Homo sapiens: one gene and its partners. The protein of the gene in region 2 interacts with the protein of the main gene of each other region in a pairwise test. Each region holds a gene or a part of one and is shown on either strand. Other genes may lie near its edges.

The links.
Region 1: the proteins of APOA2 (region 2) and PANX1 interact in binary tests that used the Homo sapiens proteins (3 or more experiments, as listed by UniProt).
Region 3: the proteins of APOA2 (region 2) and STOM interact in binary tests that used the Homo sapiens proteins (3 or more experiments, as listed by UniProt).
Region 4: the proteins of APOA2 (region 2) and CIAO2A interact in binary tests that used the Homo sapiens proteins (3 or more experiments, as listed by UniProt).

Annotation. Positions count from the first base shown.
Region 1 is NC_000011.10:94,152,041-94,160,380, forward strand, and holds part of PANX1 (pannexin-1), read left to right. Parts: intron 1-1,450; coding exon 1,451-1,590; intron 1,591-8,340. UniProt on the Homo sapiens protein: Ion channel involved in a variety of physiological functions such as blood pressure regulation, apoptotic cell clearance and oogenesis.
Region 2 is NC_000001.11:161,220,452-161,227,634, forward strand, and holds APOA2 (apolipoprotein A-II preproprotein), read right to left. Parts: upstream 3,178-7,183; 5' UTR 3,144-3,177; intron 2,975-3,143; 5' UTR 2,951-2,974; coding exon 2,899-2,950; intron 2,600-2,898; coding exon 2,467-2,599; intron 2,072-2,466; coding exon 1,954-2,071; 3' UTR 1,841-1,953; downstream 1-1,840. Other genes in the region: TOMM40L (mitochondrial import receptor subunit TOM40B), read left to right, coding at 6,039-6,153, 6,437-6,504, 6,807-6,899. UniProt on the Homo sapiens protein: May stabilize HDL (high density lipoprotein) structure by its association with lipids, and affect the HDL metabolism.
Region 3 is NC_000009.12:121,339,251-121,347,590, forward strand, and holds part of STOM (stomatin), read right to left. Parts: intron 2,159-8,340; coding exon 1,952-2,158; 3' UTR 392-1,951; coding exon of another isoform or gene 371-391; 3' UTR 1-370. UniProt on the Homo sapiens protein: Regulates ion channel activity and transmembrane ion transport. Regulates ASIC2 and ASIC3 channel activity.
Region 4 is NC_000015.10:64,076,401-64,084,740, forward strand, and holds part of CIAO2A (cytosolic iron-sulfur assembly component 2A), read right to left. Parts: intron 4,752-8,340; coding exon 4,702-4,751; intron 1-4,701. UniProt on the Homo sapiens protein: Component of the cytosolic iron-sulfur protein assembly (CIA) complex, a multiprotein complex that mediates the incorporation of iron-sulfur cluster into extramitochondrial Fe/S proteins.

The DNA of each region.
Region 1 (8,340 bases), on a different chromosome or scaffold from region 2:
TGAGTGTCGAGGCCTTTTATGTGCCAGGGATTAGGGAAATCCAGCTCCGTAACTTCCCACTGTCCCTATCATTGCTCCATAGGGTGGGAAGGGAGAATGGTAGGCACATCCCAGTCTTTAAGGCAATATGAGAATCTACTTGTTGCTTCATCTAGAAAAATGTAACACTAATTCAGCAACTTCTGGGAACCAGACACCCTCGCAAGTGCTGCAGCAAGTTTTGTTTTTTGTTTTTTGTGTGTTTTTTTAATTTTTGTATTCACCACAACAAATCTGTAATGTGGATACACTATTAATGTCATTCCTATTTTAGAGATCCCAGGCTTTGGGAAATTAATGACTTATCAGCTGTGACTCACCCTGCTGAGAGTGGCAGAGTCAAATTTAAATATGACTCATGTCAGAGCCCAGTCACTGAGCACACTCCCAGGCTGTGATGGATGTGGAAGAGAGTGTGCCTGTCATGGAGCCTTAGCTCTGACCCCTATGCCTGTGACACACACACCTTTGAATGTGCCAGGTGGGGACAGGGGATCAGGGCTGGGCCAGGCAAGGCCTAGCGCCAGCCCCTGTGCTACTGGTGGGAAGGGGAGGACACAGCCCTGCCTGAGCCTTACGATCCTATTGGTCAGTTTCCCTCCATGGCCTGTGTGTGTCAGGAGCACAAAGAGTCTTCCAGATGGTAGGTTTTACAGATGTGACGGTAGCATCTGCAGAGAGATGTAATCTTCAGTTTGCAGAGGAGAAAACCAAGTCCCAGAGTCCCTTCCCAGAAGAGCGAGTGAACGGTAGAGCCCCACCAGGACCCAGGTCTTCCCATTCCCCATCTACCGCCCATCTGCTGTTGGGAGGTTTGCAGTCGTGAGCGTTTCCCTTCCAAATGTAAACCAGTTGGGCTGCAGTTTCAGCCTGTTTCTTCTTTAGTGTTACAGGAGGTAGGAAACCACTGATTTCCCATCCAGTGTTCTATTACCAATGTTCCCTTCAGCTTTCTCTTCCTCAGGCTAATAGTTCTTTGCTTCTTTGTTCTAAAAGAACTTGTTTTTTTAGTCCAATTTTCCGCATTCAGGTGCCTCACTGACCCTCCCACATAACCTTTCCTTTTTCTCAATCCTTACTCCAAACTAAACCAGGTCTCTCCACGCTTGCCTCTTGAATTCTGGGCTCTGGTTCTTTTCCTGCTTCCTTTTTCTTTGTATGGTAGTTCTACTTCTTTTAAGAATTTTTCCCCAACTGAGGCCAAGCTGCTATCATGACCAGTGTTGGCCAAAACCACTCTGTGATCTTTTGTTTTAATATGAACTTGGGTGTTTGTTTTTAGTTCTGTCCTAATGTCTCCACCTCCTGTCCTGGTGCTCCCTAACTTAGACAAAACTAAAAACATGTGAGATGGGGACAAGAGTCCAGGTAAGCTGTGTTTTCATTGGAAACTATCTGTTTTGCTTCTTAGGTACACAGATAAGCTGTTTCTCTCCAAGTTCTTTCTCCTGGCGTCAGGCTGCCTTTGTGGATTCATATTGCTGGGCGGCTGTTCAGCAGAAGAACTCACTGCAGAGCGAGTCTGGAAACCTCCCACTGTGGCTGCATAAGGTAAAGGGAGACATTTCCAAATAGAACCTGTTTGCTTTATAGATAAGGAAACTAAAGCCCAGGGAGGCTATGCCAAAGACCACACAGATATTGTAGCCAACCAGTGCTGTATCTCAGATTGTAAAACTGTAGCACCTTATAGTCAAAAAGAACCTCAGAGATGACTTGGTGTAGGCACCATCATTTAGCACAATGGGGCAATGGGAAGTGTTCTTTGAGTTTTAGCTCTATAACAGCAGGCACCTTTTGTGTCTTGACACCTTTATATCATAATGCCCAGCAGGATGTCTGGCCCGTAGTAGGTTCTTAGTACATTTTGAGTGTCTGAATGAGCATAGCTAGACAGTGGCAGAGCTAGGATTCATGCATAGCTTCTCAGCTAGCACCTTTTCTACCACACACAGGGTCTCTTGCAGAAAGTAAGGACTGACCTAGAGTTCAGTTGCTTCTAGCTGATACGTTACTGGAACATCAAAAAGCCTAGTGATGAGGCCCTCTGGGGGTGTTGGCTGTAGCACTGTTTTTGGAATGGATCCCTTTGCTTTTTGATAGATCCAGATACTGCAGGGAAGGGGAGATACTACACAAGAGACACCAATGTCTGGGTTCCACTCCACTTCCCATAGAGAAGAGGTACATTCTGTAGTCAGGGAAGTGGTGGTTTGTGCATGCAGGTGGCAGGGGATGCAGTGAGGAACTTAGGCAGCAGTTGATAAGTTTGTGCAGAAGAATGTTCTCTGAGTTATGAAGTGACTGCATTAGGTCTTCTCTGTGCTTCTGAAAGTAGGACTTTGTTTCAGCCTGTCATTAATTTCAACCACTGTTTCTTTTGTCCATTGTGAAAACAATTAGAATGTGTATCTTCTGGTATTCTTTTCTGCTGAAGAAAATATAGAATTTTAGCTTTCGAAAACCCAAAAGCCAAAGTTTGACTCTCTTCTGCTTTGACCTGCTTCCAGACACACCATCAGCATCCTTCTTCGTAAAAGGAATGATTTAAGGGAGCTATGACTCAGGCATGTTTGTTTATAGTTGACCCTTGAACAATGTGGGGGTCGGGGCACTGGTCCCCTGCACAGTCAAAAATTTGTGTGTAACATTTGACTTCCCCAAAACTTAACTACTGATAGCCTACTGTTGACTGGAAGCCTTACCAATAACATAAACAGTCAATTAACACATATTTTATATGCTATATGTATTATATACTGTATTCTTACAATAAGCTAGAGAACAGAAAATGTTATTAAGAATATTATAAGGAAAAGAAAATATATTTACTATTCAGTTTGTGCAAACGTAATTGTGGGTTTTGCCATTAAAAGTAATTGCAAGGTGGGTGAGGTGGGCGGATCACCTGAAGTCAGGAGTTTGAGACCAGCCTGGCCAACATGGTAAAACCCCGTCTCTACTAAAAATACAAAAATTAACCAGGCGTGGCTGGGTGCGGTGGCTCATGCCTGTAATCCCAGCACTTTGGGAGGCCGAGGCAAGCGGATCACTTGAGGTCAGGAGTTCGAGACCAGCCTGGCCAACATGGTGAAACCCCATCTCCACTAAAAATACAAAAATTAGCTGGGTGTGGTACGGGTGCCTGTAATCCCAGCTACTCGGGAGGCTAAGGCAGGAGAATCGCTTGAGCCCAGGAGGTGGAAGTTGCAGTGAGCTGACATCGTGCCATTGCACTCCAGCCTGGGGAACAAGAGTGGAACTCCATCTCAAAAAAAAAAAAAAAAAGCCAGGCATGCTGGTGCATGCCTGTAGTCTCAGTTACTCGGGAGGCTGAGGCAGGAGAATCACTTGAATGCGGGAGGTAGAGGTTGAAGAGAGCAGAGATCACACCACTGCACTCCAGCATGGGCAACAGAGTGAGACTCCAAAAAATAATAATAATAAAATAAATATATAAAAGTAATGGCAAAACGCGCAATTACTTTTGCTCCAACCTAATATTTATTAAGTGGAAGTGGAACATCATAAAGGTCTTCATCCTCGTTGTCTTTATGTTGAGTAGCTCAGGAGGAGGAGGAAGAGGAGAGGTTGTTCATGCTGTATCAGGAGCGGTAGAGGCAGAAGAAAAGCCCCATAAAAGTGGGCCCATGTAGTTCAAATTCATGTTGTTCAAGCGTCAACTGTACTGCTTGCCATTTTGCATAGTGGTGCCCTATAGTGACTCTTTTCTCCTTTTAGGTTGGGCTTTTCTCTTTATTTTCAGCCATAGGTGGGTTCTCGTCAGCTTTGCATGGTTTAGTAGCCAAGGCAACAAATAATAGGACTTGCAGTGTGAATGACCACAGTTCTAAAGTTTAACAGCTTGCTTTGTAAATCCAAATTTTTACTGTTGTAGTTTAAGTTCGTTTGTTATAGTGTTCTCATGAAAATAGAGAGTTTTAATGAGTCACTGGGCTGCCTTTGATGGATCCGCAGGAGAATTGTCTAAGAGTTGGCAGGGGTGTTAGTAATTATTTTAGAGCAAGAATAAACTGAAAGATTTTTTATCCAGATGTATTTTACATTTAAGGGTAAGGGAACTTTGAGGGATCTAGCCTAAAGGTTATAGGACCAGTTACTGACCAACACATCAGAGCTCAGATCTTCAGACTTCTAGCCCATTGCTCTTCTAGTCAAGGAAGGGGAAATCTGGAAACAGTATAGGTAGCCAAACCTTAAGTTACCTGGTATTAATGAGAGATTAAGAAACCCTCTTTCTGGCAGTGGAAGACTGCTTGTTTGAATGGAGGTTTATCTAAGTTTCTCAGCAGAGCTCTTGCCAGATTCACAAGGCTGGGGACAGAAATTGAAGTCAGGACCTGCCACGTTGGAAGGACCCTTATTAACACTCCTTGGCATTTGGTTGGGACTCTGAAAGGCTGTTCCTTGAGAATAAGGGGCGATCCAGAATTAATCTAGCTCCCATAGGGACAAGAGTCCTGATTTAAATCATTGCAATAGCAGTTGAATGACAGAGATCGGGGATTACGAGTGTCTGGTCTACTTGCCTGCCAGAAGTAAAAATAAATCCTTTCTGGAGGATTTTCTGGGTGTGATTATCATTCATCTTTTTTTAAAAAAAATTATTTTTCTCGTTTTTTTTTTTCCTTTTTTTTAATTATACTTTAAGTTTTAGGGTACATGTGCACAACATGCAGGTTTGTTACATATGTATACTTGTGCCATGTTGGTGTGCTGCACCCATTAACTCGTCATTTAACATTAGGTATACCTCCTAATGCTATCCCTCCCCACTCCCCCCACCCAAAAACAAGCCCCAGTGTGTGATGTTCCCCTTCCTGTGTCCATGTGTTGTCGTTGTTCAATTCCCAACTATGAGCAAGAACATGCGGTGTTTGGTTTTTTTGTCCTTGCGATACTTTGCTGAGAATGATGGTTTCCAGCTTCATCCATGTCCCTACAAAGGACATGAACTCATCCTTTTTTATGGCTGCATAGTATTCCATGGTGTATATGTGCCACATTTTCTTAATCCAGTCTATCATTGTTGGACATTTGGGTTGGTTCCAAGTCTTTGCTATTGTGAATAGTGCCACAATAAACATACATGTACATGTGTCTTTATAGCAGCATGATTTATAATCCTTTGGGTATATACCTAGTAATGGGATGGCTGGGATGGCTGGGTCAAATGGTATTTCTAGTTCTAGATCCCTGAGGAATCGCCACACTGACTTCCACAATGGTTGAACTAGTTTACAGTCCCACCAACAGTGTAAAAGTGTTCCTATTCCTCCACCTCCTCTCCCGCACCTGTTGTTTCCTGACTTTTTAATGATCGCCATTCTAACTGGTGTGAGATGGTATCTCATTGTGGTTTTGATTTGCATTTCTCTGATGGCCATTGATGATGAGCATTTTTTCATGTGTCTGTTGGCTGCATAAATGTCTTCTTTTGAGAAGTGTCTGTTCATGTCCTTCGCCCACTTTTTGATGGGGTTGTTTGTTTTTTTCTTGTAAATTTGTTTGAGTTCATTTTAGATTCTGGATATTAGCCCTTTGTCAGATGAGTAGGTTGTGAAAATTTTCTCCCATTCTGTAGGTTGCCTGTTCACTCTGATGGTAGTTTCTTTTGCTGTGCAGAAAGAAGCTCTTTAGTTTACTTAGATCCCATTTGTCAATTTTGGCTTTTGTTGCCATTGCTTTTGGTGTTTTAGACATGAAGTCCTTGCCCATGCCTATGTCCTGAATGGTATTGCCTAGGTTTTCTTCTAGGGTTTTTATGGTTTTAGGTCTAAGATTTAAGTCTTTAATCCATCTTGAATTAATTTTTGTATAAGGTGTAAGGAAGGGGGATCCAGCTTCAGCTTTCTATGTATAGCTAGCCAGTTTTCCCAGTACCATTTATTAAATAGGGAATCCTTTCCCCATTTCTTGTTTTTGTCAGGTTTGTCAAATATCAGATGGTTGTAGATATGTGGCATTATTTCTGAGGGCTCTGTTCTGTTCCATTGATCTATATCTCTGTTTTGGTAGCAGTACCATGCTGTTTTGGTTACTGCTAGTAGCCTTGTAGTATAGTTTGAAGTCAGGTAGCATGATGCCTCCAGCTTAGTTCTTTTGGCTTAGGATTGACTTGGCGATGCAGGCTCTTTTTTGGTTCCATATGAACTTTAAAGTAGTTTTTTCCAATTCTGTGAAGAAAGTCATTGGTAGCTTGATGGGGATGGCATTGAATCTATAAATTACCTTGGGCAGTATGGCCATTTTCATGATATTGATTCTTCTTATCCAGGAGCATGGAACGTTCTTCCATTTGTTTGTGTCCTCTTTAATTTCATTGAGCAGTGGTTTGTAGTTCTCCTTGAAGAGGTCCTTCACATCCCTTGTAAGTTGGATTCCTAGGTATTTTATTCTCTTTGAAGCAATTGTGAATGGGAGTTCACTCATGATTTGGCTCTCTGTTTGTCTGTTATTGGTGTATAAGAATGCTTGTGATTTTTGCACATTGATTTTGTATCCTGAGACTTTGCTGAAGTTGCTTATAAGCTTAAGGAGATTTTGGGCTGAGACAATGGGGTTTTCTAAATATACAATCATGTCATCTGCAAACAGGGACAATTTGACTTCCTCTTTTCCTGATTGAATGCCCTTTATTTCCCTCTCCTGCCTGATTGCCCTGGCCAGAACTTCCAACACTATGTTGAATAGGAGTGGTGAGAGAGGGCATCCCTGTCTTGTGCCAGTTTTCAAAGGGAATGCTTCCAGTTTTTGCCCATTCAGTATGATATCAGCTGTGGGTTTGTCATAGATAGCTCTTATTATTTTGAGATACGTGCCATCAATACGTAATTTATTGAGAGTTTCTAGCATGAAGGGTTGTTGAATTTTGTCAAAGGCCTTTTCTGCATCTGTTGAGATAATCATACGGTTTTTGTCATTGGTTCTGTTTATATGCTGGATTACATTTATTGATTTGCGTATGTTGAACCAGCCTTGCATCCCAGGGTTGAAGCCCACTTGATCATGGTGGATAAGCTTTTTGATGTGCTGCTGGATTCGGTTTGCCAGTATTTTATTGAGGATTTTTGCGTCGATGTTCATCAGGGATATTGGTCTAAAGTTCTTTTTTTTTGTTGTTGTGTCTCTGCCAGGCTTTGGTATCAGGATGATGCTGGCCTCATAAAATGAGTTAGGGAGGATTCCCTCTTTTTCTATTGATTGGAATAGTTTCAGAAGGAATGGTAACAGCTCCTCCTTGTACCTCTGGTAGAATTCGGCTGTGAATCCATCTGGTCCTGGACTTTTTTTGGTTGGTAAGCTATTAATTTTTGCCTCAATTTCAGAGCCTGTTATTGGTCTATTCAGAGATTCAACTTCTTCCTGGTTTTAGTCTTGGGAGGGTGTATGTGTCGAGGAATTTATCCATTTCTTCGAGGTGTTTATAGTATTCTCAGATGGTAGTTTGTATTTCTGTGGGATCAGTGGTGATATCCCCTTTATCATTTTTTATTGCGTCTATTTGATTCTTCTCTCTTTTCTTTATTAGTCTTGCTAGCGGTCTATCAATTTTGTTGATCTTTTCAGAAAACCAGCTCCTGGATTTATTGGTTGTTTGAAGGGTTTTTTTGTGTCTCTATTTCCTTCAGTTCTGCCCTGATGTTAGTTATTTCTTGCCTTCTGCTTGCTTTTGAATGTGTTTGCTCTTGCTTCTCTAGTTCTTTTAATTGTGATGTTAGCGTGTCAATTTTAGATCTTTCCTGCTTTCTCTTGTGGGCATTTAGTGCTCTAAATTTCCCTCTATACACTGCTTTGAATGTGTCCCAGAGATTCTGGTATGTTGTGTCTTTGTTCTCGTTGGTTTCAAAGAACATCTTTATTTCTGTCTTCATTTCGTTATGTACCCAGTAGTCATTCAGGAGCAGGTTGTTCAGTTTCCATGTAGTTGAGCAGTTTTGAGTCAGTTTCTTAATCCTGAATTCTAGTTTGATTGCAGTGTGGTCTGAGAGACAGTTTGTTATAATTTCTGTTCTTTTATATTTGCTGAGGAGTGCTTTACTTCAACTATGTGGTCAATTTTGGAATAAGTGCAGTGTGGTGCTGAGAAGAATGTATATTCTGTTGATTTGGGGTGGACAGTTCTGTAGATGTCTATTAAGTCTGCTTGATGCAGAGCTGAGTTCAATTCCTGGATATCCTTGTTAACTTTCTGTCTCGTTGCTCTGTCTAATGTTGACAGTGAGGTGTTAAAGTCTCCCATTATTATTGTGGGAGTCTAAGTCTCTTTGTAGGTCTCTA
Region 2 (7,183 bases):
CTGCCTCCTGGGTTCAAGAGATTCTCGTGCTTCACCCTCCCGAGTAGCTAAGACTACAGGCACCACCATGCCCAGCTAATTTTTTTTGTATTTTTAGTAGAGACAGGGTTTCACTATGTTGGTCTTGATCTCTTGACCTCGTGATCTGCTCGCCTCAGCCTCCTAAAGTGCTGGGATTACAGGTGTGAGCCACCGAGCCTGACCTGGAAGTAACTCTTTTAAAGATAAAGTGGGAATAAACTTTTATTGGAAAATGTTTCATTTTCCTTTGCTCTGCCTTTTGGGATTGTAAGTCTCTCCCCATCAACCCGGACTGATTTCCATTCCATTTTCATTTAATCCAGGTATCACAGCTCCCAAAGTTTTTCTAGTCCCACATGTCCACCGAATTGGATACTTGCCAGGCCTTTAAATGGCTACCACAGCTACTACTTCCAGGCTCCAAGATGGCTACCAGGCCAGTTCTATGAATAGTGCCTGGATAGCAGTGGAGGAGAGGCTTGGAATGGGTCTTCCACAGACAGTGTCTAGATAAGAGGGTTTTTGTTGTTGTTGTTGTTGTTGGGATGGAGATTCACTCTTGGTGCCCAGGCTGGAGTGCAATGGCGTGATCTCGACTCACTGCAACCTCCACCTTCCGGGTTCAAGCGATTCTCCTGCCTCAGTCTCTTGAGTAGCTGGGATTATAGGCATGTGCCAACACTCCCAGCTAATTTTTGTATTTTTAGTAGAGACAGGGTTTCACCATGTTACCCAGGCTGGTCTCGAACTCCTGACCTCAGGTGATCTGCCTGCCTCGGCCTCCCAAAGTGCTGGGATTACAGAGGTGAGCCACTGCACCCAGCTGGTCTTTTGTTTTTAATTAAAAAAATATATATATTAGGGGGGCTCACTGTGTTTCTCAGTCTGGTCTCGAACTCCTGGCCTCAAGTGAGTCTCCCACCTCAGCCTTCCAAAGTGCTGGGGTTACAGGTGTGAGCCTTGATGCCTGGTCTAGATAAGAGGTTTTAAATGGAGAAATTAGAGCACTTCTAGGGAGAGGAGCAAACTCAAGTCTTTTATTGTGGGAAAGGGGGAAACACAGTGTTCCCCTGGCTCAGAAGGGAAAGGAGGGCCACGGGTGACACCTTGGGAAGCTTTCTTTTCTTCATAGAATGACTAACAGGAAATTATGAGGGGTACCCTCATTTTCTTTTTTTCTTTACTTTCTTTTTTTTTTTTTTTTTTTTTTTTTTTTGAGACGGAGTCTTGCTCTGTCACCTAGGCTGGAGTGCAGTGGCACGATGTCAGCTCACTGCAACCTCCGCCTCCCCGGTTCAAAAGATTCTCATGCCTCAGTCTCCCGAGTAGCTGGGATTACAGGCACGTGCCACAACACCTGGCTAATTTTTGTATTTTTAGTAGAGACGGGGTTTTACCATGTTGGCTAGGCTGGTCTGGAACTCCTGATCTCAAGTGATCCACCTACCTTGGCCTCCCAAAGTGCAGGGATTACAGGTGTGAGCCACTGCACCCCACCAGGGTACCCTCATTTTCTATGACCTCCAGAAATCGAGGGATTCAGTTTGTGAATCCTTCCTTCCTCTCCTAGTTCCTTGTGCAATGCAAAGCCTCTTTAGTGTTCACCTGCAGAGTCGTGCCCAGGCTGTAGGAGACTCTGGGTTTGGAGAATCATGGCACCCTCATCCTGTCATTTTCATCAGTTGTGTCTTCAATCCTTTCTTCACCCCTCCACACTCAAACCTCTCTCCTTCTAGAAGCAGATTTTTCCTTTTCCTTCCTCTTCTCCTCCCTTACTCCCCTACTTTTCCCAGTCCCCCAAACATACCAGGCTCAGAGCTGGATTCATTCAGCATTTATTGTAGCAAAGAGTGGGTAGGGACAGGAGCTCTAGGACTGGCCAGTGGGTGTTCTAGAGGCCAGCTGGGGTTGGAAGACAATGGTCTGGACACTTCACTGGGTGGCAGGCTGTGTTCCAAGTTCCACGAAATAGCTCAAGAAGTTAACCAGTTCCGTTCCAGCCTTCTTGATCAGGGGTGTCAGCTGCTCCTTTGACTTTTCAAAGTAAGACCTGGATAGGTGAGGGGATTAGAGTTTAATCTGAGGGACCCTAGGCACTGGCAGGGGCCTTGGTGGTGGTGGGAGGTCAGAGCAGACTGACTCAGGTCCCCAAACTCTAGTGCCTGGTCCATCGCATGGCAAAGCCCCTAGGTAGGAATAGAGTCAAGACCTTTGCTAGGTAGAGGGACAGACTCTAGAGACTGAAATTCAAGGCCCAGTTCTTGCTGTTCCTCTCTATCTAAGAGACGTGTGGGATCTTTGGGTGATGAAATACTTTTTCTCTGCAATTTAAGCCTAATCTGCCCTAATCCCCACCCCTGGGTTCAGACTTCTGTGGGACCTCTCATCTTCCCTTCTTTCTCTCCACAGTTCCACAGCCCCTGAACCCCTTGCCCTGAGACTTACTTGGCCTCGGCCTGAAGCTCTGGGCTCTTGACCTTCTCCATCAGGTCCTTGCCATAGTCAGTCACGGTCTGGAAGTACTGAGAAACCAGGCTCTCCACACATGGCTCCTTTGCCTGTCTCCGAACCAAAGCTCCTGCCCACACACACACACACACACACACACACACACACACACACTCTTTTCAGCTGGGTCCACAGCAGTGAATCCTGGCCTCCTGCCATACCTCTGCCAGTACCCACCCCAGCTCTCTGCCCCCTCCCCAAAAAGGTATCCAGCCAGATCTTTGGATGGGCTTTCTGGGCTTTAGAGAGGGAATGATCTTCCTTTTGAGCCCTTTGGTTGCCAGACCTGGATATAAGAGCACAGGCAGATAGGTAGCTATAACCACCAGCACATTCTCCCTTTTGGCCCCCTCTCCATATCACACCCACCTTCAAGGCTGCAGATGGTGAGGAGTAGCACAGTTGCTGCGAGCAGCTTCATGTTGGTAACAGTGGGGAGGGCGGCCTAGGAAGAGGGTGGTGGGGGTTTGGGGGACACTGAAGCCAAATGGGCTTCAGCTCCTCCCCAGGGATCTCCCTACCTGCTGCCCATTCCAACCTGGCTCTCTCCCTCTCCACAACTGAAGCCCAGGCCTCTTTGGATGCTGCTCACACATCTTGCCTCCTTATCTTACCTAGCCAGCGTCTCTGTCCTTGGTGTCTGTGCCTGCCCTGGCTGGAGAGGAAGGGGCTATATACCTGTCTGTTTACCCACCCCCTGTCAGGTGACAGGGACTATGGATGGGCCCAGTGGGGCAGGGATTATGTGAGGATAAACAAGTTGGAGAAATGGGGGAGGAGAGGACAAGCACATGGAAGACTCATGGTGATGGGGTGAGAGGCAGGGGGTACAGCTCTTAGTGGAGGCTAAGGGGGTACACTTCAGGTATATTTGAGGTTCATTCTTTTGAGATCTGAGGTCCTTGGACTTGAGTGCAACAGGAAGCAGGATTCCAAGTTATTTCTCTGGAAAGCTCTGACATATCAACCCATGGAATACCATCAACCCATCATACCATGGAAAGCTCATGGTGTCTTTATTCCATTATGGGTAGATCTCATCTCTCAACCTTATCCCACTTTACTGCAACTTGGCAGAGAGATATTGGGGAGCAGAAGAAAGGAGAAAGGAATTGAAATCAGGGACAGGGTTGAGGGCTATGGGGGTTAGGGGAATGAGGGTCGGGTAAGAGGGCAAGTGTAAATGATCTTGTCCGTTTTTGAGTTAATGTGTAATGAGACGGGGAGAAAACAGGAGAGCCCAGAATGACCTGGATGCTGATCACTGAACATACCCTACCCCCAGTAAAACAAATTCAGAAAACAGCTTCCGCCCGTCCCCTCCCAATGGAGGGCTCTGGCAGGAAAAGAGGTGAATAAGAGGCTTCTACCAGGGTAAAGGTTGAAGGCACCTGGTCATTTGATCACCTTATCAGTTCTAGGCAGTGATTAGCCAATATTGAGTCAGCAGGGGCAATAGCCCTGGCCCTTGTCTCACTCCTGTTGGGGGTGGGGGAGGGGGAGAGGTACATTCCCAGGTTCAAAGCATTTGGGTGAAATCAGTTAAATAGATATCAGAAGCTTTTGTATCTTTCACCCTTTTGCCCCCCAAGCATACTCGCTGAGTATGTGGAACATTCCTGAGGGTGACAGTGGAGGCGCAAAGCTGATGAGGGAGGTAGTGACCAGAGACCAAGAAATCTTTGTTTTTTAACTTTTGTTTTAAATTCAGAAGTATATGTGCAGGTTTTTTTGTTTGTTTTCCTGAGACGGAGTTTTGCTCTTGTTGCTCAGGCTGGAGCGTAATGGCATGATCTCGGCTCACTGCAACCTCCACCTCCCGGGTTCAAGGATTCTCCTGCCTCAGCATCCCAAGTAGCTGGGATTACAGACATGCGCCACCACGCCCGGGTAATTTTGTACTTTTAGTAGAGACGGGGTTTCCCCATGTTGGTCAGGCTGGTCTTGAACTCCCGACCTCAGGTGATCTGCCCGCCTCGGCCTCCCAAAGTGCTAGGATTACAGGCATCAGCCACCGCCCCTGGCCTATATATGCAAGTTTGTTACACACGTAAACTTGTGTCATGGGGATTTGTTGTACAGATTATTTCATCACCCAGGTATTAAGCCTAATATCCATTAGTTATTTTTCCTGATCTTCTCCCTCCTCCCACCCTTCACCCTCCAAGACCAAGAACTCTTACTCCATTTTCAATTATTCCCCTGTGGAGCGCTTAGTGCTTGAGGTCAGCCCTTTGGCTTGTCCCTGGTCCTGGGATGGAGTGCCTTTGGGGGCCAGGCTCCATATTCCTAGATTTTATTTGCCAACTCTGCCTTGGGACTCAGGGAAGGAAGGGTTAAATACAGAAAGCAGCTGTTTCAGCGAATAGTTCTGCTAGAACTTACTCCTCTGCGCCAAACTCTCACACCCGTTTCCATTCCACCAAGTGGTCAAGAGCGGGGACTTCGAGAGATGTAGACCTCCAGAAGAGAAGGGTGGGTCCCTGTTCTAGGGAGTGCTGCGCTTAATGAGTAGTACTCATTTGGAGGTGTGCTGTGGAGGGCTGTGAGGAGGATTTCCCATGGGTTCTTTGGAGAGAAGGGAGCGATAGAAATGAACCAGGGTTCCAAAGAAGTCTTCATAATCGTTCTTTCTGCCACCCTTCACACTATGCCAGTCTACAAGCTGTAGTTCCACTTTTCTCATGGATGAAACTACATGGGTGGAAGGAGCTTCAGTGGCCCAAGCTACAAGATGCTCCCTCTAGTGTCTTGTACGCTCACAAGTTTTTTTCCGACCTTGGAGAGGCCTAGTGATCTAAAGCCTTCCACTTAAGTCTAAGGGGCCACCAATCAAGTCCTGCCCGCCTCTGCAGCTCCAGGGTTGAAGCTCTTGGGCCGTCAGACCTGCCACTCATTTTCTTCCTCCCTTCCCATTGGCCCATGGTAAATAGCGAGGCTTTTTTTTTTTTTTTTTTTTTTCATTGATTGGGCGGGGCCCAATCAGGGTTGGGTTGGGTCTTTGACAGCTTTCTTTGCCAGATTCAAAGATGGCGCTTACGGCCACGCTAAGAATGCAGCGTGAAGCTGCAGTTCTGCCATCACTCAAGATGGCTGCCCCCATCAAGATGACCGGGGTGTGCCGGGGGGAAAGGGGCAGCATGATGGTCTGAGATGGTAAGGGATACTGCACCATTGCGGGCCTGGTCTTGGGGCCTGGGAATGAAGAATAGAGAGGCTAGGGAGCTAGGTGAAGTCTGTGGTGGGGGCTAGGATCAGAGAAAGGGAGAGAGGACAAGGGTGACAAGTGGGGGTGAGAGATCAAAGATGGGGCGGGAGTGTGCCTAGGGTTGTCTCTCCATGAGTGCTCTCCTTCCCTACTCTTCCTGTTCCAGGTGTAGCGTCGGACCATGTGGAAGTTTCTGAGGCTGGGGAGCCGGATAATGGGGGGTGGGGCCCGTTGGGGGGTAAAGGGGCAATAGCGTCCTTTCACAGGCTAACCTCGGCTCTTCCCAGTCCTCTGGACTAAAATGGGGAACACATTGGGCCTGGCACCAATGGGGACTTTGCCCCGCCGGAGCCCCCGCCGAGAGGAACCCCTGCCCAACCCTGGGAGCTTCGATGAGCTGCACCGTCTATGCAAAGGTGAGAACTTGGCACTTGGGTGTCTCAGGATGAAGGGGCAGAGGAGTGGAGGGTCTTGAATGCCGGATGTCCGGCGATGGGAGCAGGAAAGGGGAGATCATAGCTGGGTCATGCAGCCTCAGGGAGGATCAGGTGCCCAAATGAAGTGGAGCATTTCATTGCAGGACTTGAAAGGAGGTTAATTCCTCCAAAGTGTTCCCTATGGGATTGAAAGGGGAGACTATCTTTTGGGGTAGGGGTTCTTTGTCTGTGCTTATTCCTTCCCTTCCCCTACCCCCTTCAGATGTATTCCCAGCACAGATGGAGGGAGTGAAGCTCGTTGTCAACAAGGTTCTGAGCAGCCATTTCCAGGTGCTCCCACTTCTCTGGCCCCTCCTTACTATTCCCCCTTTCCTGTCCCTGGATCATCTTCTCCTTTCCTTTGTACTCCAGCCCTAGCCAGTCTATGTGGGACAAATGAGGGAGGATGTGGGGTTCTCTTTACCTCCGTGCCTGTGGGACTTGTTGCTTTTAATCCGATGACCTTCTCTGTATATGTTGGAATATTTAGGATTCTTGAGAGGCCCTCTGGATGGGGAAAAGACTAAGGGTGGGATGAGGGATTGAAGTGGAGCAGGAATGCGCTTTTCTCCACTGAATCCTCTTTTCCTCAGGTGGCGCACACTATACACATGAGTGCCCTGGGCTTGCCGGGATATCACCTCCATGCGGCCTATGCAGGGGATTGGCAGCTCAGTCCCACTGAGGTGAGGGCTCCACACACCTGGGTCATCTCCCTAAAAACCAATCTGGGACCCAGGTCTGGAGGAAGAGGAATTGTGTGTGTTATGGGGAGGAATGGGCCGTAACCTGATTCTCTGTGTCTTTTCTGAATGAGAGAGGGTAGAGAAACATTTTCTGTGAAGAGCCCAGAGTGTGTCTTTGTGACTCCACCAGGGGGCGCTGTGCACTCTTAATGAAGTTCTATATTTGGGTTTAGGCTGAGTGGTGCCATCCGGCTCAGCCTTACTACTGTGTACACCCTTCCACA
Region 3 (8,340 bases), on a different chromosome or scaffold from region 2:
TATCTGGAGACAGGAGAACTCAAGGAACCAAAAGCACTGTTACTCTAAGTCTCAGAAAAGGTTTTCAGTCAGGATATGGAGGCTCCTGGTCCTCAAGGGTGAACCACTTCACACAACAGATAAAACCATCATTTTAAAATTCAAAATGTAAGTGCAACTTGAGTTTAAGTTGCACTGCTCCATACCTCTAATAAACTCAGCTAGGAGCCAGGATACATGGTAGTTCAAGGCTTCCTAAAATAAGCTTGAAATTGGGGTACAGGGGAAGGGACATCCATTGGCTGGATGGACAGAGTGGTTGAGCTAAAGAGAGCTATAAAGGCTCGTGCTGGGAAAGAAAGCTGTTATGCTTAGACTTCTCTAGGTGAACTCAGAGTCTCAAAGAGGAAATGTTACAAATGTCACCCGCCAGCTTTCTGGCCAGTAAGCAGAATGCCAGGTTGCTCAGATTCACAGACATTTGCAAAACAGAAGATGTCTCCTAATATTATAGACTAAGAATTTGTTGTCCAGAGGAGCTGACCAGTTCCTCTTTCAGCATCAATATACATGATAGAAGAATGACTAGGTAAATTTAAAAAGACCTACATCTATATAGATATTGTAAGTTTGACAGTATCTGCCCAAGATCATTAGACACTATATAGTCAATATACTGTGAATTCCTTATACTATGTAATGAATGGGTTTGTAATCAACATATTTCACAGTGTACCACAGTTAACAGCATGCAGATAGTAAAATATAATGGTTTCCTGAAGTTATCTCTTAAAAAAGTATTTTAGTCCTTCAGCTATTCAAATAGATATATAACAATTGCATATAGAACGTAGAGAAAATTTTATTAAAAAATTAAAACTATTTAAAACCTGATATATGAAAATAGGCAACAGTGAGAAAAAAGCACTTTTGTGACAAATATTTAGCTGGTTTGAAAGACAGAACAAGGAGGAATCATTTACTCATAAAGAAGGCTCAAATAAGTTAAAACATGGATGTATTTTTAAAATGACCACTCTAGTAGTGAATTTAAAAGTCTTTTAAGGGTTAGAGTAATCTTTTTCATTAGTCTTGGCTATTTCCTCTAGTTCTGACAAGTACAGGCAAGAAAATGGCTACTCTCAAGTAAGGATTATTCTGAAACACGGTCTGGATTTAGAAAATAAATGAACATTAGGGAAATTTCCTTAATTAAGACTCTCCAAACCAGGTGTGGTAGCTCATGCCTGTAATCCCAGCACTTTGGGAGGCAGAGGTGGGTGGATCACCTGAGGTTAGGAGTTCGTGACTAGCCTGGCCAACATGGTGAAACCCCGTCTCTACTAAAAAACAATAATAATAATACAAAAATTAGCTGGGCATGGTGGCATGAGCCTGTAATCCCAGCTACTGGGGAGGCTGAGGCAGGAGAATCTCTTGAACCCAGGAGGCGGAGGTTGCAGTGAGCCGAGATCATGCTATTGCACTCCAGCCTGGGCAACAAGAGTGAAACTCCATCTCAGAAAAAAAAAAAAAAAGACTCTCTGGAGGTAAGGCACATATGACCTGGAGAAGCTGGTTGTGGTGTAAGGTCATCACTTTCTGCAAAGCATTTAGCCAGTCAGCGGTGTCAGGTGGCAGTTACAGCCCAGGTTCTTGCCTCTGGCCTGGGTGCTTAGGGGGTTCAGAATGAGTCAGTGGAAGTCAAAACAAGAGGGATCTAACCTACTACATAATAATCTAAAAATACAAACTTTTAACTATTTTAAGACTAACAGATTACCTTATATAAATCACCAATCTCTCAGTATTTACAAGCTAACAATTCTTTCACCTATTTTTATAACTGCTATACATTCTGGGAACACCACAATTGACATATGGAAAAAGAAAAGCCCTACCCTCTCTTTATGAGTTAAAGGCTAATTTGGTCCCCGACTTCATGCTTGGAAGGCTAGCGCTCATCTCTACACTAGCCTAGATGGCTGTGTTTTGCCCCTATGATTCCTTGCAGCATATCTATGGGCAGAGGGAAGACAATTGTTGAGTTTTTCTCAGCAGCAATGGTGGTCAGTGTCTGCAGGTATCGGAGCTGAAGGGCTGCAGGAGATTCAGTGATGACCATGGAGGCTTCTTTCAGAGCCCTGGATGCATTCATTTCTCCTTCGGCTGCAATAACCTATGGACAGGTGAAAGGAGGGGTTGAACTGGAGAAAACCTCATGGGGACACACAGCACTCTTCAACCGGGGGTATGTATACCTCAGGTGGTCCACAAAACTTTCTAGGGCGTATGCCAGAGTAGTTTTAAGAAAATCAATTTCTACATACTCAGTTTCCATATGCTTCTTTTTCTGAAACTGACTTGCCTGACTAGTGCCTGGATCAAGACATTCTCTTTTACTATAGCCTTTCTCCCATTTTCCAGGGTAACAAACAAAGGGATAATTCAAAATACTGTGCAGGATTGAGAAAGCAAGTAACTTTAATGACTGCAGGCAAATCCTTTTGCAAGTCAGCAGCATTTCCAATTCTCTGATGAGTACCTTACTAAACTGAAAGCTGACAGGTCATTATAAATATTTTTTGATGAAAGACTGTGATATGATTTTTTTAGCACATAAATTCAAAGTGCTAAGAACTGTATGATACTACTTTAAACAGAACTTCCATTTCCATCTACTTATTTATGTAAATAAGGTTTCAAAGTCCTTATAGCTATAAAAATGAAAAATAGGAATAAAATTGATGCTGAATCGTGTCTCATTCTAGCATTAAACAACAGCCATCTATACATGTACGATTTAATTCTCATTCATCTTATAAAGACAAGCATTTCTAGTAAAAATTGACTTCTGGTACTGGGTGCAGTGGCTCACACCTGTAATCCCAAAACTTTGGGAGGCCAAGGCGGGCAGATCACTTGAGGTCAGGAGTTCGAGACCAGCCTGGCCAACATGGCAAAACCCTATCTCTACTAAAAGTACAAAAATTAGCTGGGCGTTGTGGCAAGCACCTGTAAACCCAGCTACTTGGGAGGCTGAGACAGGAGAATTGCTCGAACCCGGGAGGTTGCAGTGAGCCGAGATCATGCCACTGCTGCACTCCAGCTTGGCTGACAGAATGAGAATCTGTCTCAAAAAAAAAAAAAAAAATTGACTTCTTATTTAGGAGAAATTCTGAAATGTTTGTAGAACCTTGTTTTTAGTTACAGGAAATTTTTAAAAATTAATTCTAACTTATGGACTAAATATGTTGCAGTATGTTAATAAAATAATTCATGACAAAATGTATGTTAGGAAAAGAATCTGGCGGAAGTGAAGATGCAATAAAAAACTTAGGTTTAAGAAGAAGAAGAAAAAAACAATAAAAAGCTCCTGACTGTTAAGAGTTTACTTACATATTTTTAATGGATAACTAAATCATTATTATTTCTCATTGGGTACATTTAAAAGAATGATGTTAACAGTTTTATTTAAAAATGTCAATATTTACAACATGCCAGGAATTATATTCTTGGCAAGTACATAAATTCAAGATGAAAAATTTTTACATGCCGATTTAAAATGTTTGATGGACTTTATAGTTTTTCTAAATTCTGTAAGGGGTTTCACAGGCAAAAAAGTTTGAAGATCACTCGAGTAGTAGACAGAACAGGAGTTCTGGAGTCAAATGGACTTGAGTTCAAATCCCAAATCTAACATTTACCAGCCGAATGTCCTCAGAGAGGTTACTGAACATCCTGAACCTCAGTTTCCCATTCTTAAAGCAGACTAACATGTACTTCAGAGGACCACTTGTGAGGAAGACAGAGAAAGTATATAAAGTGTTAAATGAATAAAGGGGGCTATTATAGAGGAATGGCAAGTGACAAGACCTGATTTTTGGGTCCAACTATGCTTTAATGCACAAAAGATTCAAGGTAGTTACTTTAATTCATAATCCTAGAAGAAGGAAAGGTATTAAGACACCATAATTATCAAGATTAAAAGTACAATTTCTCCAGGTTATTATCCTCACTTGAATCTTGAATAATTAATGGTCCATAATACTCCATGAATATCAGAATTGGAGGTGATGGTCTTATGCCCAGTGAGATTTCATTCACTCACACAGCAAAATTTGGGGGCCTTCTAGGGTTAATAAGCCCTGTGTAGGAAAAGCTAAGGATAGAGTGGAATCCCTAGCCTTCTTCAGCTCCTGGTCAGGTAGGGAAGGCAGACATGGAAGTAGATCATTTCATTCTAGTGTGATAAATGCTGACAGACATATGTACAAGGCACAGTGCAAGCAAACAGAAGAAAGCAACTTTTCCAGAGGGTGACGTGGTGAGGTTATAGAAGTTGAATATTAAATGATAAAATGTTTGCTGTTTAGAAAAAGATGAGGAAGAATATTTTGGGCAGAACACATGAAACGGTACTGAGGTATAAAAATGGTATATTCCAGAAAACTGTCAATGGCTGAATACTATGGCAGGAAGAGGGGAAAGGTGGGGGATGAATGGGGCCGGGTTCTGAAGGGCAGTGAGGGCCAGGGTGTTTGGTCTTCATTCTGTAGGCAATGGGAAGCTGCAGAATGATTTTAAGCAGGTAAGTAAACTCCATCAGATCTAGTTTGAAAAAGCTCTCTGACAGATGTCTGAGGTTAGAAGAGAAGGCAGTGAAAGCTGCTAGTGGAACTGCTTTAGAGTGGCCGGTGCGATTCATAGGTGGTGGGGACAGAGAATGAAATGGTTTGGGGAGCTATTCTCCCTCCCCGAAGGAGGGCGAATCAGTGGAATTTGGAGACTAGGTAGGAGGAGGAAAGGGGGACACAGGCTGAGACCCAGGTTTCCAGGTTTTGGTTGCATAGATTAGTGCCATTAATGGAGATAGGATACAGAATATAGTACTCACTGAGAGAAAGGATCCAGCTTATAGGATAAAAACCTTAATTTATCAAAGCCACACATCATGTCCTGCCTAGGTCTGTGAGAAGGGACAAGTGCCAGCTTTGCTCAAAGAAAACCACAGAACTGTATTCCAAGGTAGGCACTACAGAGAATACATCAGAAATCCCCTGCTATGAGAGCAGCAGGCTCTCATTTTTTCCATATCATCTCAGATGTCCAATTAGGCACTTTTTTCTTTGGACATGGACCAACTGAAAAGATATCTCATTTCCCACCACCAATCAATACACAATCGCTTGGCTGAGAAGCCAGACCCACCGGGCTGGGCACACATTTTGTTCATAGAAAAGCCACACTGAGCAAGCTGCCAAAGATGTAAACAACACCACCGGCTTTGTCTAAATACAGGCCAAGTACACTCCGTTGATAGGATCTTAGAGAGCAAAGCAAGCTATTTGTGGGTGTGCACGGCTTTTGTCGAATGTGCAGTAATCTCATAGCAATCAACATTTCATATTTATAGAACATCATTTTAAAGTCTGGCATTTTCATGTATGTGAAATTGGTGCTACCTGTCCCTTCTGCAGACCAGGTGGTCTGGGCAGAGGAAAAGGCAGAGAAAGGTGATCTGTATTTCTGCACTCCATCCTCTCAATTAATAGACTTCTACACCCAGAAACATGAGCCCAAAAGCATGTGCCAGGTGTTTTTCTGAGAGTTATGAAAAGGAAATAAAAGCTGATGCAAACACAAAAGATATTACATTTCAGGCCACTAAGAGCTGGTCTAAACACTTTAAAAACCAAACCTAACATACAGAGAAACACGTAGGAGAATCTGTCCTCTTCTGTGACCGGCTTCTTTCACTCAAATTATGTGTGTGAGCACTTACATTCATTCTCTTTGCTATGTAGTATGCCTACATGTGAATAAACCAGACTTCATTCATTCAGCTAGGAATGGACATTTGGGTATTCTACAGTTTGGGTCAATGTGCTGCTGTGAACATTCTAGTACATGCCTTTTGGTAAACATATGAGTGCATTTCTGTTAGATTCATACTTAGGAGTTGGAGCTGCTGGCTCATAGGGTATACAAATGTTCAGTATGAATAGACATTGCCAGACTGTTTTCCACAGTGGTTGTATTAAGTTACACTGCCACCAGCAGAATATGAGAGTTCTAGTTCCTCTCTCACCCACACTTGGTTCTTTTCCGTTCTTTTCAGGCCATTCTGATAGCTGTCTAGTGTGACATCCGCTTATAATGTGAATTTGCATTTCCCCGATGGCTAATTAGCCTAAGGAATTTTTCTATAAAGTCTCTTAATCTTTAGATTATTCCACTCTATCTCACCTTTCCTGTGCAATTTATTTGTTGAAGAAACTGTGACCCCCCTATTTTCCATGAGAATTTCAATACAATAAGCCTATGGTTGTTGCAGGGTTACTGTATTTTACAGAAGGGCTAGGCTCATTGTGATTCTATGTGTGAACTCCAAGACAGTCACTGCCCAGGTTCATGAGACTGCTTCTAGACTAACCCTACAGCCCCGTCCAAGTGGGAGCATGGCAATTCAGAATTCTAAGCGGTTTCTTCTATCTTTTCTTACTGTTATAAAGGGAAGATAGAAATTTTCTTTCCAAACTCTTAAGAATGCTATGGAAGAGGCTCATAGCCCATCCTGGGAAGTCAGTACTAGAGGAGGCAATGAGGAGCAGAGGGGAATTCTAATTTCCACTGCTACTAATCAACTGTGCGACCTTGCGGACGTCACTTAACTTTTCAGAGCTTCAATTTTTCCTTTGAATAGTGGGATGGCAAACAAGTTTCATTTTTTTTTAAGTTTTTATTATTATTAATTTTTTATTTAATTTAATTTTTTTGAGAAGAAGTCTTGCTCTGTCGCCTGGGCTGAAGTGCAGTGGCGCAATCTCAGCTCACTGCAACCTCCACCTCCAGGGTTCAAGCAATTCTCCTTCTCAGCCTCCCCAGTAGCTGGGATTACAGGCGCCTACCACCACACCAGGCTACTCTTTGTATTTTTAGTAAGGACGGGGTTTCACCATGGTGGCCAGGCTGGTCTTGAACTCCTCACCTCAGGTGATCCACCCACCTCAGCCTCCCAAAGTGCTGGGATTACAGACGTGAGCCACTGTGCTTGGCCTCAAGTTTTGTTTTTTAGAGCTAACTCTAAGCAGTTGAGGGTTGTTACCCAGAGTGCTATAGAAGGGTTCTGAGGCCAAGTCTAAGCTCAGAGGAAAACAGTGCTGTGGTTAATTACTAGCATGGGAATAGCAGGATGGAGTGCTAGCATCTGGGCTAAGTGTTTGCCACCTATGGAAGATAATCTCTGAGGATCCTTTGGGCTCTGACATTCTACGTAGTATATGTATGGTACATTCTACTATTCAATCTGGTTTGGAAATGAGGCTTTTGCCTAATAACATATTCTAGTTAAAAGCAATTCCTAATTTTCAAAATAAGGAGATGATAGGGCACATTTAATAACATCGTAAACATAATTTAATCTTCTAAACGTAACAGTTTTGAAAGAAAGCACTAGAGGGTTCTGTAGTACTACCAGGTTATCATCACAAAGCAACAATCATCATACCAGGAAAACCTAAACATTTTGGTTAATGCAAAATTCTGAAGTCGCATGTCAAATGAGCTACTATCCTATTTGATGCTGGCTAAGAAATTATAGTGACCAGTTTGTGGCTTAAAGGGCATCCTAAGAAAAGAACAGCGTTCTGTGGTCAGCCAGTGATGACCAGCTACTACTATTTTCTAACAACAAATTGGTTTGCTCCTTGTGTCTTGGGAGATTTGTCAAGTCCACAGCAACTCCTCCTATGAAAACTGCTCTTCTTCTTCAGCCCATTCACAGGCATAGGGCTGTGGAACCATATTATTATGCTATCTTTGCACTTTGACCAAAGTTGGACCAAAAAGACTGTCTCTTCTGTGAATGTGGAATTAGGGCTGGTCTGTGTTCTTTAGTGTTCACCTGGCAGACATCTAAACCTGGGAGCTAGACATTCTCCACCACAAGCTATCTACAGTGAGATGTGGCACAGGAAAGGGAATGACTAGTTCCCTGAACTGCCTTCTGGTTCCAATTTTGGTGAGACTTGCCCCTACTTCCTACCTTTGGGTTTGGTGAGATATCCCTGAAATTTTACACATTATCATCTTTAAAGATACTCTTTTCTAGGTTAGGTTAACAAATATTTCCTCAGTGCCTCCCAGAGGGGCCATGCCACCCATGCAGGGTTAAGACATAGGCAGATGATGATGAAAAGAAGGAAGAAAAAAGGCAGATGTCAAAGTAAGAGAATATAAACAAGAGGAAAAGAGAGAATGAGGAATAGGAAACAGTAAAAGGGAAAAAGAGCCTGAGAAAAGAAACAGAACAAAAAAGAAGCCAAAAATAAGTAAGAGATGGGTGGTATGGATGGAATG
Region 4 (8,340 bases), on a different chromosome or scaffold from region 2:
CCTTCTTTTCTCATTCATTATTATCATGCTAAATTTATTCTCAAGTATAATACTGGTTAAGCTATCCCTCCTGGCCCTGCTGCACCTATAGACATGAGCTACCCTCCAAGACCCAGAGCTTTTAAGACAACCTACAAAATTATTGCAAATCCTGTGGTAAAGAGAGTATGCTGTAATAAAGACGTCTACTTTCCAGAGAACACTGGAACATATGAACTAATTTTTATTTACTTATTTACTACGGAGATAAACATTTCTCATGAGTGAGAAAAATCATAACTTATTATAGTTAAAAGGGACCTTAAAGGTCATCTAGTCCAATCTTTTTTTTTTTTTTTTTTTTGAGACAGGTCTTACTCTGTCGCCTAGGCTGGAGTGCAGTGGCGCGATCATGTCTCACTACAGCCTCGACTTCCTGGGCTCAGGTGATCCTCCCACCTCAGCTCCCACACTCCCACCCCTCTCCTCCCTCGTCTCTATTTTTTTGTAGAGACCGCGTATCGCCATATTGCCCAAGCTGGTCTTGAATTCCTGAGGTTAAGTGATCCGCCCATCTAGGCCTCCCAAAGTACAGAGATTATAGGCGTGAGCCACTGCACCTGGCCCCAATTTTTTTTAAAAAACAAAACAAGCCGGGCGTGGTGGCTCATGCCTGTAATCCCAGCAATTTGGGAGGCCGAGGCAGGCGGATCACGAGGTCAGGAGATCGAGACCATCCTGGCTAACACAGTAAAACCCCAACTCTACTAAAAATACAAAAAATTAGCCGGGCGTGTATTACCAGCTACTCAGGAGGCTGAGGCAGGAGAATCCCTTGAACCCGGGAGGTGGAGGTTACAGTGAGCTGAGACTGCGCCACTGCACTCCAGCCTGGGTGACAGAGCGAGACTCCGTCTCAACAAAACAAAACAAAACAAAACAAAACACCTTTCTCCTAGTAGCAAAACACTCTTATTCTAGACCTCAAAGCAACAGGTATAGAATCACTCTATACTGACTTACTTCAGTTTAAAATTACACAGGACTCATTATTCTAAAAGTGATAAAGGGGAAAAGGCAGCATTTATGCAGCTATTCCTATATGAACTATACTTCAGGGTAACCAATTGATGAGGGGAGCTGTTACCAATAATGGGACAAACTGAATTTATAGGCCTCTGATGTGATGCAATGAGAACACATTTATTCAGTATTCTTGCCAAAAATGCACAAACTGAATCTAACCAGGAAACATCAGAAAACTCAATTTGAGGGACAATCTATAAAATATCTGGTTTACATTCTTCAAAAATATCAAGATCATGAAATAAAGGCTAAGGAACTACTCTAAATTAAATGAGACTAAAGAGACATGGCAACTAATGCAATGTATGATGGGGGAGAGGAGCAGAGCCAGGAGGAGGGACCGCCATGAAGGATGTTACCCATTGGAATACGTGCTGTAGATGAGATGACAGTACTGTATCAATGTCCTGGTTTAGAAATTTATACTGTGGTAATGTAAGAGAATGTCCTTGTTTTCAGGAAATACATCCTATAGTATTTAGAGTAAGGGGGCATTACAAATGCACTCAAACATTTCCAGAAAATATGTGTATGTGTGTGTACATATATAGAGAGAAATTAATGATAAACCAAATGTGGCAAAATGTTAACAATTAGTGAATCTGAATCTGGGTGAAGGATATATGGAATTTCTTTGTACTATTCTTCACTATTTTATTTCTTTTCTTTCATTATTTTCATTTCAAATAAAAAGTTAAACATTGTAATTAAAACAGTTAAAAATGAAAAATAAAATTTACAGGGCATCATAAACCACTAGTATAATAATTTATTAATTTACTCAATTTAAGACGTATTTATTGAGCTCCAAATATGTATAAGATCATAGCAGGAACACAGAGATGTATCATATATGAATCTTGACTTCAAGAAGCTGACAGCTAGCTGGTCAGGCATGGTGGCTCATGCCTGTGATCCCAGCACTTTGGGAGGCTAAGGCGGGTGTATCACCTGAAGTCAGGAGTTCAAGACCAAACTGGCCAACATGGCAAAACCCTGTCTCTACTAAAAATACAAAAATTTAGCTGGGTGTGGTGGTATGCGCCTGTAATCCCAGCTATTTGGGAGGCTGAGGCAGGATAATCGCTTGAACCCAGGAGTCAGAGGCTGCACTGGGCCGAGATCGCACCACTGCCCTCCAGCCTGGGCGACAGAGCGAGATTCCATCGCAAACAAAAAAAAAAAAAAAAGAAAAGAGAGAGAAGTTGACAGTCCAGGAGGGAAGATGAAAAACAAACAGAACACAAGTTAGAAAAGGACACTCTCTACATCAGAAGACAAAGAAAGAGCCACGGGGCTGGGTGCAGTGGCTCACGCCTGTAATCCGAAACACTTTGGGAAACCAAGGCGGGAGGACTGCTTGAGCCCAGGAGTTCACGAACAGCTTGGGCAACATAGTGAGACTCTGTCACTACAAAAAATAAAATTAGCTGGGCATGGTGGCATATACCTGTGGTTCCAGCTACTTGGGAGGGTAAGGAGGGAGGCTCACTTGAGCCTGGGAGATCAAAGGTTCAGTGAGCTGTAATCATACCACTATATTCCAGCTTGGGCAACAGGGTGAGACCCTGTCTTTAAAAAAAACAAAAAGAAAGAGCCACGGCAATTCAAAAAAAGAAATAGCTTTAGTTACAGAAATCAGGACTAGTAGTATGGAAAGGTGAATACAAAAAATAAAAAAAAAAATTTAAAAGATAAATAAAAATTCATCTTAAAAAGAAGAAAGAAATCAGGACTGATATCATGGAAAATAAAATAGTATTTCACTGGGCCTTAAAACGTGGGTAGGATTTGGCCAGGCCCAGTGGTTCATGCCTATAATCCCAACACTTTGAGAGGCCAAGGCAAGATGATCACTTGAGCCCAGGAGTTTGAGACTAGCTTGGGCAACAAAGAGAGACCTCATCTCTACCAAAAATTAAGAAAAAATTAGCCAGGCATGGCAGTGCACGCCTGTAGTCCTAGCTACTTGGGAGGCTGAGCCTCGGAGATAGAGGCTGCAGTAAGCAGTGATCACACCACTGCACTCCAGCCTGGGAGACAGAGCAAGACCCTGTCTCAACAGCAAACAAAAAAGATGTGTAGGATTTGAACATATGAGATGGGAGGAAGGGAACTCCAAGTAGACAGGGTACTCTGTGTAAAGGCTAGGTAGCAGCCAGGTAGAGAAGGCATAATTGCCCAGCAATTACAAGAGGCAGTAAGAGACAAGGCCGAATCATTCACGAGCGATAACCAATTACTATGAATTAACTGTGATATCCATATTCTTGCTCAATAGTAGGGTTAAAAACATCTTCCTCAGATTATCACACCAAAAGCACAAGTTAAAAAATTAAAAACAAATTAGACTTTATGAAAATTTAAAACTTTTGTACTGTAAAGGACACCATCAAGAAAGTGAAAAGACAACACACAGAATGGGAGAACATATTTGCCAATCATATCTGACAAGGGACTTGTATTTAGACTATATAAAGAACTCTTATAATTCAATAATAAAAAGACATCCTTATTTTAAAATGGGCAAAGGATCTGAATAGACAGCTCTCCAAAGATACACAAATGGCCAAAAACCACATGAAAAGGTTCTCAACATTATTAGCCATCAGAGAAATAAAAATCACAACCACCATGACAGCAGGGTGCAGTGGCTCATGCCTATAATCCCAGCACTTTGGGAGGCCGAGGCAGTGGATCACTTGAGGCCAAGAGTTCAAGACCAGCCTGGCCAACATGGTGAAACCCTGTCTCTACTAAAAATAAAAAAAAATTAGCCGGGAATGGTGGTACATGCCTATAATCCAAACTGCCTGGGAGGCTGAAGCACGAGAATCGCTTGAACCCTGGAGGCGGAGGTTGCAGTGAGCCGAGATTGCACCACTGCACTCCAGCCTGGCGACAGGGCAAGACTTTGTCTCAAAAACAAAAACAAGGCCAGGCACAGTGGCTCATGCCTGTAATCCCAGCACTTTGAGAGGCCGAGGCGGGTGGATCATGAGGTCAGGAGTTCAAGACCAGCCTGACCAATATGGTGAAACCCCGTCTCTACTAAAAATACAAAAAATTAGCTGGGCGTGGTGGTGGGCACCTGTAGTCCCAGCTACTCGGGAGGCTGAGGCAGGAGAATCGCTTGAACCTGAGAGGCAGAGGTTGCAGTAAGCTGAGATGGCGCCACTGAACTCCAGCCTGGGTGACAGTGAGACTCTGATTCAAAAAACAAAAACAAAAAACCATCACTTCACACCCACTAGAATGCCTGTAATCAAAGATAATAATAAATGTTAGCAAGGATGTGGAGAAGTGGGAACGCAGAATGGTGCAGCCACTGTGGAAAACAAACAATTCCTCAAAATGTTAAACACAGAGTTACCATAGGACCGGGCGATTCCACTCACAGGTGGAAAAGAAATGAAAATATATGCCTACACAAAAACTTATACATGAATGTTCATAGCAGCATTACTCATAATAGACAAAAAGTAGAAACAACCTAAATGTCCATCAACTGAGTAACAGACAAGCAAAAACCACTGAATTGGTACACTTTAAATACGTGAATTGTGTGGTATGTGAATTATATCTCAACAAAGCTGTTTTACAACAACAACAACAACAAAAATACATCTTTCTTACCTTATGTTTAAATGGTAAACATCGCTGAAGTTTTACTCTTAAGCACAGCCCTGTGGAGGGAAAATCACACCTCCAATTATCTCTTTATTGCTTCTTATTGGTTCTTGAAAAAGCATACAACTGCGTTTATGTGCCCCCATACAACACAGTTGCTGAAAACAGCTTTGGCTCAATCCAGAGCAGAGCTCCTTTGAGGCTGGCACCACGCTAGGAAATTTAATATATAATCTTACATATTCCTTAGGATAATCCAATAAGCTATTACTAATCCCCTTCTACAAATTATTAAACCAAAGTCACAACGTAACTTCCTCAAGGTCACTGAGTTACAACAGTGGCAGAATTGGGATTGGAACCTATGACCACTGGAAAGCCCAGGCCATTTTTACTACATCAGTTGGCCTTCCAGCAAAAGTCAATTAACTCATTAAGCCTTTTTTTTTTTTTTTTTTTTGAGACGGAGTCTTGAACTGTCGCCCAGGCTGGAGTGCAGTGGCATGATCTCGGCTCACTGCAACCTCCGCCTCTCGGTTCAAGCAATTCTCCTGCCTCAGCCTCCCAAGTAGCTGGGATTACAGGCGCACACCACCACACCCAGTTAATTTTTATATATTTTTGGTACAGATGGGGTTTCACCATGTTGGCCAGGCTGGTCTCAAACTCTTTACCTCAAGTGATCCGCCTGCCTTAGCCTTCCAAAGTGCTAGGATTACAGGCATGAGCCACCCCACCCGGCCAATTCAATTAACTTTTTAAAATGCCCCACAACAGGCCAGGACACGCAAAAAAATAAAACAAGTCAAAGCCATTTTAAAAGGGCCACATAAAATCTCTCAAATTTGTAATCCTTTATGCCTGCAAGGTACAAATACAGTAACTTCTTTAAAACAAGTTCCACTGAAGTTCAGTTTATCATCCCATGCTAAGACACATCAACAAAACCTCAAACCATACAGCAATACAGCAAGATATAATTGTTAGACTACCTATCTTTTAGGGAGGTAGTAACTTGGTTTTGGTTTTCTAAGTACCATTTGGTTTTCTAAGAGAATTTTTTGAAAAATCCCAAAACAGGGAAAAGGATTAGATGAGATATAATGAGGTGGTGCCTGCCACAGGGTCTTTATTTACTTATTTATTTTTTTGAGACAGAGTCTTGCTCTATTGCCCAGGCTGGAGTACAGTGGCGAGATCTCAGCTCACTGCAACCTCTACCTCCTGGGTTCAAGAGATTCTCCTGTCTCGGCCTCCTGAGTAGCTGGGACTACAGAAGCACGCTACCACACCCACTAATTTTTGTATTTTTAGTAGAGACAAGGTTTCATCATGTTGGCCAGGCTGGTCTTGAACTTCTGACCTCAAGTGATCTGCCCGCCTCGGCCTCCCAAAGTGCTGGTATTATAGGCATGAGCCACCGCGCCCGACCTTATAGAGTCTTGAACACAGTAGTTCTATAATAAATATTAGAGAATTCTAAAGAAAATATATTATTTCCTTAAGAGGGTCTCTCTTCAGAGGATCTGCCTTAAAGCATATCTGGGAGAGTTCCTCTTCCCCTGGCCCCACCATTGTCTCCTTAATTTGTTATCTGTGTACTGTCTGAATATCCTCACGTATTTTAGTCACTATTGGTAGGTGTTTTACAATTCGCAAAGCACTTTTTTGAGCATCATTATCCTCAAGAGAGGTAGTACAGCATAACTGAGATACTTTGGGTTTCAAAAGTAGCTTCACTACATACTCGCTGTGATCCTGCATAAGTTACTTAACCTCTCTGAGCTTCAGTTTCCTTATCTGCAAAACAGGCATTATAGTATCAGCTGGGCAAGGTGGCTCATGCCTGTAATCCCAGCACTTTGGGAAGCCAAGGCGGGAGGACTGCTTGAGCCCAGGAGTTCAAGACCAGCCTGGGCAACGTAGCAAGACCCCATCTCTAAAAGTAATAATAATAATAATAATAATAAAACTTAAAAATATATATAATAATATCACAATATATAGGGTTGCTATGAGGAATAACCTGTTATGCAATGTGTTTAAAACAGTACCTGACACATAAGTGTACAATAATAGTATAAAAATAATTACTATAAATAGTAAAAAATAATAGTATAAAATATTACTATTTTATACTATTTTATAATTTTCATTTTACAGCCAAGAAACCAAGGTAGGTGATTTAACATTACTTAGCTAACAAGTGGCAGAGGTAGAACCCAAACCTACACCTTCTGACCTCCAAACCCTAAGACCGTTCCCATTGGACCACAGCTGCCTTCAGCCATTCTTATCTGGAATAAGTCACCACAAATGATTATCAACTTGTTTCCCTGCCTTACCCTCTTGTTCCCTTGGAGTCTTCCTTGTCAATCACTTACCAAGGTAACATTGAGTAGGTGATACTCTTACTCAGGCACCTTTCCAGGCTAGGACTACCTGCTCTGGAGGAATATCTGTTAACACATCAGACAGACGAAGGCTTCTCTCAAGTTTTCCAGCTGTGTTGACTGAACAAAACTACTATGATACACTATTATACAATTCTCTAAAAAACCAATAGGCCGGGTGTGGCAGCTCACACTTGTAATCCCAGCACTTTGGGAGGCCGAGGTGGGCGGATCACTTGAGGCTAGGAGTTTGAGACTAGCCTGGGTAACATGGAGAAACCCCGTCTCTATTGAAAATACAAAAAATTAGTTGGGCATGGTGGCACGCGCCTATGATCCCAGCTACTTGGAGGCCGAGGCACGAGAATCGCTTGAACCCAGGAGGCAGAGGTTGCAGTAAGCCAAGACAGCACCACTGCTTTCCAACCTGGGCAACAGAGCAAGACTCTGTCTCAAAAAAAAATAAAATAAAATAAAATAAAAATAAAAAATAAAAAGCCAATGGTCTTAGCTGAAATGCATAACGAAAGGGCTAAGACAAAACTTTCTACAGGAAGTGTACAGATCTGAAATATCAACTATAATCTAATGTTAGCACCCTTACAGAACAGTTTTTATTTCATGCACTCTCCTGATATTTGTCCACGTACACATTTTTCTATAACTGCAATCATGATGCAATTTGAACTTATTCAAGCTTTTTCATGTTTTTTTTCTTTTTTAAGAGATTGCTGGTTTCAAACTCCTAGGCTCCAGTGATCCTCTCGCCTCGGCCTCCCAAAGTGTTACAATTACAGGTGTGGGCCACCACGTCTGGCGAATATTTTCTTCTATAAAATTAGTTCCTTAACTCCTGCGTCAAACAGTATAAACTTCCAGATAGGGATTTACCAATATATACCATGAGGCTTCAAAATACTTACATAATCTAACCCAATTATTCCACGTATAGGAATTTATCCTGATGCAATAATGAGATATATAAAAATATTTATATAAGGCCAGGCACGGAGGCTCACCCCTCTAATTCCAGCACTTTGGGAGGCCAAGGCAGGCGGATCACCTGAGGTTGGGAGTTAGAGACCAGCCTGACCAACATAGAGAAACCACATCTCTATTAAAAATACAAAATTAGCCAGGTGTGGTGGTGCATGTCTGTAATCCCAGCTGCTTGGGAGGCTGAGGCAGGAGAATCGCTTGAACCTGGGAGGTGGAGGTTGTGGTGAACCAAGATCATGCCATTGCACTCCAG